2 linked regions of the Homo sapiens genome follow. The protein of the gene in region 2 purifies or fractionates together with the protein of the main gene of each other region. This does not show direct contact. Each region holds a gene or a part of one and is shown on either strand. Other genes may lie near its edges.

Region 1 (3,806 bases), on a different chromosome or scaffold from region 2:
TCTACACTGATCTTGAATTCCTGGGCTCAAGTGATCTATCCCCTCGGTCTCCCAAAGTACCGGGCTTATAGGTGCGAACCACTGCCTGGACAGAGCCGCCTTCTGTAAAACACTCACCTGGGCCACCCTGGTAGAGGGCGCCTCTTGGGGGGGATGGGGGATGCCAACCTCACAGGGCCTCCTATCTTTTAGTGCTGGTGTTCCAGAAGGTTCCAGTACTGGGAGGGACAGGTGAGTCGGCAGCAGTGGGCTCATGGCACAAAGGCAGCCCACGAGGGACTGTGTGCCAGGCCCATGGTGATGCCAGGCCCACGGTGGCCATGCTGACAAGGGAAGGAGGGAGCGGGGGAGCAGGTGGCTGTGTGAGCGGACGCCCTCAGGACAGGACGCAAGATACTCTCCCCTGGGCACCAGAGGGCCCCTCGAGGACGGACTCCCTCCAAGAGACAGGGACTGAGCTTGGGAAGACGTGATCCAGGGGCTCTCCCAATCGGGGCGCATTCTTTCCCCATGAATTGTTAAAGCCACGACCGGAACACGGGAGTGGACCTGCTGAGCGTCCTAACGTGTCTGCTGCAGGACCGATGCGAACTCATGGTGGGACCATCCGGAACAAGGCCAGGCCCAGGCCTCTCCCCTTGGGACGCTCACCCCATGTCTCCCTGGGGTTCCCTCCACGGTGCTGCCCTCATCCCTCAAGCTCCTGCCTCCCGCAGTGGACAGTGGCTCTGGCGCACCTGGGCTGTGTCTGTCTCCCTGCCTGGGCTGGGACTGTTCCAGGGCCCCTCAAGGCTGGAAGAAGAGCCTGACCGGCCGCCTAGTCCAGATGGAGAGACCTCTGGCCCCGAAAGTCAGGACCCCCCAGGAGGCCACTTTCTGGGGGAAGGTGCAGCAGCCACTGGAGAGCTCTGGATTCGGAATCCAGGGCCCCTGGGAAGATGCGGATGCGGACGAAGACCCAAAAACCAGAAGGAACCCCCGCCAGAGAGCAGGGGAGGGCTCCTCTCTCCAAGGACGCGCGTCAGAGCCCCCGAAGCGCGTCTGGGAGGTCACGTACCGGCTTACTCGTCTATACCAACAGAGCAGGAGTCGGGCCCCAGGGCTGCGCGGAGAGGGGGAGAGACAGACGGAAGCTCGGTTAGCAAGCGCGCAGCAGCCAGCACAGCCACAGCAAGGGCACCAGCTTGGGGACACGGTCGAGGCCGTCTAGAAACAAACACTCTGCTGCAACCACAGAGAACCACAAGGAGAACCACAGCTGGGAGGCAGAGCGCAGCCAGAATTCAACGCGGAGGAGCGCACTGGCCCTGCCCCTCCCTCCCATACCTCCCGCTGCCGCAGCCTAGGGAAGGGCGCATGAAGGACCTAACGGGCGCAGTCCACCTCTGGTTTCAGGAGTGAAGGCCCTGGGTGGGGGGCTGAGGCTAGACAGGACCGAGCTCAGGGCCAAGTCCAAGACACCAGGGCCCCCAGTGTTCACCATCTCATGGGCCCTCCCATCTACAGGGACAGCAGGGTTCAGTGATGCCGCCCACCCCGCCAGGCAGCGGCTGCACCCCTATGAGAAACCAAAGGCTCTGGCGTGTGTTCATGCCTTACGCACAGACACGGATAGACAGTCAAGGGCTCTGTGATGTGAAAAAGTCAGTGGAACAGAGGGGCCACCACATGGATTTAAAAACACACAGAAACCTGTGCTGACAAGGCTGACAGCCACGGAGATGGCGCCAAACAGCCCCCAAAGGCACATGTGCTCTCCGTGGCTCAGAACTGAGGCCGTGCAGGCTGACCTGCTGGCATTCAGCAGCAGCCAACTCCAAGAGCGGGGCCCAGGGCCCAGGAGTTCACCTCAGGCTGCCCCGATGTAGACTCGGCCTCTCCTCTACCGCCTCCACAGATGACGACTGCCTGCCCCCGTCTGTGGGCCTGAAGAAGGCCCGAGACCCTCCCCTGTGGGTGGGGCATGAGACTCGGAGTCCTGGCCTCCTCTGTGTGGGCCTCCTCTGTAGCTGTCCCAATCCTTCCCAGGCCTGGCCACAGAGGGGAGGCGCAGCCTCTGAGATGCTCCCCCACAGGGCCACCCTGCAGGATCAGATATCATGTTCGTGGCTCCCAGAAGCTGAGGTCCTTCTGGCCTCTTCCCCGATCACCCCCCAAGTTTTTAATCAGAATGAAATATTTGAGATCCTCTGAAAGACCTTACTCGAATTCTGTGTCACTTTAAGGTAAGCTGGTCCTAAACACACCTTCTGCTGTGAGTTGTTCGGGGCAGGCCGCTGTGGTCATCAGGGCACCAGAGGCAGTGCCTGCTCCTGCACCTGCGACCTGTCACGCCCAGCCCATGAGCACAGGCCACTGCTCAGCCAGAGTCCGGGGGCACAAGAGCCCCTTTCCAACTAAAGCACGTCACAACCACCCAATGTCAGGCCCAGGTCACCAGGTGACTCAGGAGGATTGAGCAATGGTGGGCCCTGGGGCCAGGAAGCGGGTGAAGCCTGGCAGCCGCGAGGGAAGAGCCACACTCCCTAAGCAGTGGCTCTGGGGTCATGTCTGAAAGCACCGTGGCTGTTTATCGCAGTTCCAGAGCCGCAGACAGCCTCGTGGCAGGTGCTGAGACACTAGTCTGAGAGCCCCCATTCCCTCCCGGTCTTTAGAGCTTAGGATTCGAAACTGAGGATCTTATCCCAGCAGAGCAGAGCACGAAGGTGCTTGGCTGATGGGGTCTGGGGCCCGAGCCTCCGGGAAAGGTGAGAAGAGCAACCCTCTGTCCCAGCCTTGCTGCCTTGCTGTTCCCCGCTGGCGCCTGGCGCCCCCGCCGTCCTCTGTGCCTGGCCTGGGATGTGCTGCTGCATCAGGTGGCCTCTGTCAGGCCCGGGGCAGGGTGACCCAGAAGACACTGCCCCTGCGCTCTGTGGCCCAGGGCCCCCGCTACCCAGCACAGCGTGTGGTACCTGCTCCTGCTCTGTCTGCAGCTCTCAGGCACTGCCAGGAGCGCACGTGGCACCCAGCATGGGGCCTGTGGGCCCACGATAGGACCAGGAGTGGGGGAACATGTGGTGATCCCAGTGGGGCCGGATCTGCCCTCCTGGCGTGAGCAGCAGGCAGAGGGAAAAGGACCCCATCCTCTCACAGGCAGCCTCTCTCGCGTCTCTCACCTCCTGTGGCCAATGTGGCCCCAGGGAGGGAAGGGGCTTTGGTGCAGGTTCCGCTCCCAAGAGCCAGGCCCTGCCTGAGGCTGCTTTGTGGCCATGGCCCTGGCCCGCATCCTGCTTCACGGTCAATAGCAGGGGCATGGCTGAGAGCCAGGGAGAGAACCAGGCTCCAATGGACAGCCTCTGCTGCTATGCACCGACCATCAGAGCAGGGCCCCCTCCCTGGGGACTAAGACAGGCACCCAGCCCCTCACCCCCAGACCCCCAGCCCCTTACCTGGCAGGTAGATGTCAGCAGGTGGGCCTCGGCCACAGTGCTCGGGGCTGCTGTCCTGCAGGACATTCTCAATGGAAGCTGCTCGGGTCCCTGCAGGCAGAGGGTGAGGTTAGGGACCTACAGGCAGGGGCCAGGTCCCGGCAGGTCCCTCTGGGCAGGAGGCCGTCTCTCTTACCCAAGGGCTCTGTAGCCACTGTGGGGACCCCAGGCTTGTGCTCCAGCAGGACTCCACCGTGACCCCACCTGCTCTCCAGGGACCCCAAAGCTGGGTGTTTCCCTTCTATTTCCCTCCTTCCCATCCCCCAGCATGGGGCTTTTTTTTCCCCTTTTTTACACTGTGTCCTGGATGTTCAGAGCATAGGGCTTTTTTTTTTTTGG
Region 2 (4,554 bases):
TTCAAGGACAGATGAATTTCTACGTTGTTTTCTGCTCCCGGACCATCCCAACTGCTTTGCTAGGGCCCAGTCACTGTCTCCAGCTGAAGTCAGTTTTCCTTGAACTTACTGATGTTGATCTTACAGAGTTATAAGTTACGCTTATCACTGTGAAGACTGGCTGCAGCCAGCAGAGCTCGCTATGGTAGGCAATGGCTCATCTGAATCCAGCGCACATCTTGTTTTGAATTCCGCATAGGCTCAATTATGAGAGGCCTTCAAGGGAGCCTTATTTTGGGGGTGGCTTTATTCTTTTTCCCCATGCCGGGCACAGGCAGAAGCATCTCTCGGTGTGATCATCTTGCAGGCCGCTGGGCAGGTTTACAGCTTTTCCGACACTTCACAGAGAACTGCTGCTTACAGTATAATTTCTTTTTTAATATACACAAGACTGGAAATTAGGCATGAATGACAATGTGATCACATCTTAGGACGAGCGAAGGAAAGTCCCGAGAATGGAAGCTTTTGCAGGAGCTCACAGCTAGGGAGGCATGAAGCCCAGGCTGGAGTGTTCTGGTTGGAAATCAGTGTGATGCTCAGCTCCCTGCACAGCCTCACCTGGACCACCACCTTCCACCCGCTCACATCTCCCGTCCTCTGAGCTTCACTGCTCATGGCAGGCTTCCTCCACGGTGCCTTCCTGCCAGTGTGACCCACTCGGACCTTTCCCTGCCACGGCTGTGCTGCTCACACAAACGCTTGCTGCCCCCAGGTTTTGATGCTGGGACACCTACTAGGTTGATTAGTCTCTGTAGTTTGCACATGTTGTTCTCCCACCAAGTCAGGCTCTGTGCGTTACCCATGCTGCTAGCACAGCGCTTGGCACACGCATATTTTGAGTTGAGAACTTACTTTAAAACCATCTTCCAAATTTTGTACCCTGGCGGCTCATAGTCAGAGAACAGAGAAGTTAAGACTTTAGGACTCCACCACACTTTAAGGCCCACTGGGTGGGTCTGCACCAGCGCTTGCCTGTCTGTTCACACGTTCTCTCTCCCTGGGCCTGGACACGTCCTTCCTCACTTCTCACACTCAGCACTGTGTCCTTGCCCAAGTACAGACTCTCTTCCACTGCCCCCGCATCCCAAGGGAGCCCAGGATTGCTGCCCGTCTATGCACCTGTAGCTGTTTGTTCTTATTTCTACAACGGCATTATTCACATGAAAACCCTGCAGATGGATCTGAGTTCCTTAGGATAAGACCTGCCCTGACCATGTCTGAGGCTGAGCCCTGCAGACAACCTGGCCCACAGCAATTATATTTGCCTAATGAAGGCAAGGAATGTGGCTTACACAGACAAGAAAGCTCTCATTAAAATGTATTAGACACTAAGGATTCCATAGGAAACATACCTGGGATCATTAACAAGGTAAAGAATAGGATTTTTTTTTTTTTTTAAGATGTCTTAAGTTGCTCTGAGGCAGTGAGAGGGCAATTTGCTGCTGAGCAAAAACCTCCTCTGCCAGAGATTCAGGATCCACTGAGAAGTCAGGATGGCTTTGGAGCTTATCTACCCCATTACCCTGGTTCATGCCCTCCTCCACCCCTGCCGCGGCCTAAGCGGTGTCCCAAAGGCAGGGTGAGGGCTCCCGTCTCCCTGCTCCCACAGCTCTTTGTGGGTGTGTGTCCTGTCTGGGAGCTAGTGTGAAGTGTTGTCTCAGTGTGCGCTGTCCTCAGCGCCGGGGCTCCAGGAGGCTCCACTCTGACTTAGGCTTGCAACAAGGCCCAGCACATAAGGGTTCGGTACAGCTTGATCTAGGCATGAATGTGTGAGCAGAGCCTGTGACCACCGCTTCACTCCCACTCCGGGGATGGGGTGGGGAGGGCATGTGAGGAGCACTCCTCCTTCTGATCTGCTCAAGGCTGTACTCTCTGGACCCCTTTGTACCCCTTTCCCATTCCTATCCCTTTTGGACTTTTTGCATGCATGTATGTATGTATGTTTACAAGTGTGCACGTGTATGTGTGTATATGTGTGTGTATGAGTGTGTGTGTGTAAGTGAAGAATGGGGACAGTTATCTGAAGGCAGCTTAGACAAACTGAAATATGAAGAAGAGCTGTTTAATCGAATGCCTGGGCCTCTTTTCTAGGTAACATGTGCCCCCCGACAGAGCCAGCCAAAGGAAGGTGTGAGCCCCTCATGATGGCAGTGACTGCATGCTTTCTGGGTGCAAACACTTTGCAGGAGTATGTGATAATCAGTATGCTTTTAGTTATTGTTTATCCTGCACCCCGTGTTGCTGCCTAGGAAGGTGGAGGCTGACTGAGCTAGTGGTTGAGAAAGGCACAGAAAGTGTGCGTGCATCTCCCAGAACTGTAACGTCACACGTGTGGATGGTGGAGTTGCTTAGACACCAATGCCTGAGGTTCAGGAAGCTGCCGCATGCCCACGTCTTTGTGGCGCTAAAACCCCCGCACTCTTACACCTAGACAAGCTGATCAGGTGAAGGGGCTAACTCCAGAAGTGATAATAGAAGCATGATTTGTTTCACCCCTAATTCTATTAGGAAAAAACTGGCTGTAGTCCTTGAATAGAGCTCAATGACAATTTGAAGAGTACTAGAGAAGCCAATAAATTCATTAATAGGGAAGATTGTTTTAGCTAGACAAAAAGGTAATAGCCTTCATTGTAGTAGTTTAATTAGAAAAATAATAAACTCCCTTAGGAAGGATGAAAGCCCATAATTAAAAAGATGAGCTATTTGGAGGAATTCTGAATAGTACCTCTTCTCAGATTTGTTCCTAGCTGCTCTATTCATGGTCCAAAAGCACTTAGCAAGCTGAGGAATTAGTGGAAAATGTACTTACCTTCAGCTCTGAAGCAGGAACTTTCTGGGCAAAATGAATGAGAAGGAATGAGCTCGGAGAGAAAAGCAAGCAAGTGGACCTTGGGCCGGGAAGGGCCGGAACACATGCATCACCGGAGATACAGCTAGATTGTTATCATTACCTTGAATAAATGTCATCCCACATGAACTGTGCATTTCTGGTAATGTGAAGTTAGAGAAATGGAAAGACACAGGCAGATGAAGACATAATTTCCATGAGCTCAGCTAGTCAAGGTTACTTCCAATGTTTATGACAATGTTTCTAGCAGATTATGGAATTGTCATCTTGCTCTTTTTAAATGCCACTTTAGAGTTGCATTTATTTCCAAAAAGAACTAAGGAATTAAATAAATCAGGTTTTTGAGAAAATGGTTTTGGAAGAATTTGTTTTAAAACTTCTAGCAAACTTCTTGATATATCTTGCAAATATTTGGCTCATTAGTTTCATTAAGAAGAAGGGAATAGCCCCATTATCCCTATTTCACAAGACTAAACAATGAGAGTGAGGGAACTGTGTGCTCAAGTGCACATATGACGCATGGGTCCAGACAAGAAAAAAACCCTGTGTTCTGCCAATGCTTCTCCGTCCAAAAACTTCACAGAAACCGCCATAGATAAGAGCCATCATTCAAAGCAAAATTCTTCCATTTTAGGGTGCAATGCTGTGTGTTTTCTGCCTGCCGGGGCCTGCAGGGAAGGGCTACTGTTGGTGTCAGTCACAGCAACAGGAATGTTGAAGTGTGGAATTGGGCCAAGTTTCCAGATGGTCCTGGGTTTTTGGGGCTGGGGCCAAACCAGTGGCTGTTTCTGAAATGTGAGCTTCCGCCCCAAGCTAAAAAGTGTTCACACGTGGGTGGTCTGGAAAAGACCAAAGAGAGAGACCTGAGTTGAATTTGCCAGGCGGGTAAACACAATTTTATAAAGTGGCTTTTCCTGGCCTGTCACTGAGGCAAAGCGTGTTGTCCCCAGGAACTCATGGACCCAGGATCATCCCAGACTTCGACTGTTTCTGAGTAGGTGTGTGCCTCCGCAACATGCCCTGCAGCTGAAACCCGGCGTTCCACAGGCCTCTTTCCCTCTTCAGTCATGTAGTTGAGATAACAGAGAAAAGCAAGGCATTGCCTCCAGAAAGCTACTGTATTATCTGGAAAAGTAGAGACAACTCGTCCTTAGCCCTTGTACTTGCAGAAGCAGAGGCCCTTTGTCAGAGATCTGTGGATCTGATTAGCTGATTGGGAAAACCGGTGGCCAGCCCTGGGGAGTGGGACATCAGGCAGGCTGCAGACAATGGGAACACTGTCTGGAGGAGGCGAGCCTCGGCCAGTCCCCTGGGTGGGACCTGGGCCACTCTGATTGGGAGGGACAGGGAGAGACTTCCAGCAGGGGGAAGGTTGCCTAGGGGTTTGGCTAAGCCCTGCAAAGAGAGTAGCTATTGCTATTTTAGTTCTTCCATTTTGGGGGCTCATCTCTCTCCAATTTTTAGAGAAAAGGGGGCAAAAATCTCTTGGAAGGAGCAGAGTAGAAATGACAGAGTTTAGAACCAGAAGACACGCGGTCAGAGTTCTGAGTGCCAGGCCTCTAGGACTCCATTGCCTGGTGTAAAGCGGGCTGTTGTGAGAATTCAGACTAGGTTTGTAACAGTGCTCAGGGAAATCTAAAACCATATGCCAATACCTATGGTTTTTG

What was found.
Region 1: the proteins of MC2R (region 2) and MGRN1 purify together in Homo sapiens (affinity purification with western blotting, with the first as the bait; one study listed by BioGRID). This does not show direct contact.

Annotation. Positions count from the first base shown.
Region 1 is NC_000016.10:4,683,555-4,687,360, reverse strand, and holds part of MGRN1 (E3 ubiquitin-protein ligase MGRN1), read right to left. Parts: intron 3,519-3,806; coding exon 3,429-3,518; intron 1,103-3,428; coding exon of another isoform or gene 1,062-1,102; exon of another isoform or gene 1-1,061. UniProt on the Homo sapiens protein: E3 ubiquitin-protein ligase. Mediates monoubiquitination at multiple sites of TSG101 in the presence of UBE2D1, but not of UBE2G1, nor UBE2H. Plays a role in the regulation of endosome-to-lysosome trafficking.
Region 2 is NC_000018.10:13,912,640-13,917,193, forward strand, and holds the start of MC2R (adrenocorticotropic hormone receptor), read right to left. Parts: upstream 2,898-4,554; 5' UTR 2,849-2,897; intron 1-2,848. UniProt on the Homo sapiens protein: Hormone receptor primarily expressed in adrenal cortex that plays a key role in regulating adrenocortical function. Upon corticotropin (ACTH) binding, facilitates the release of adrenal glucocorticoids, including cortisol and corticosterone.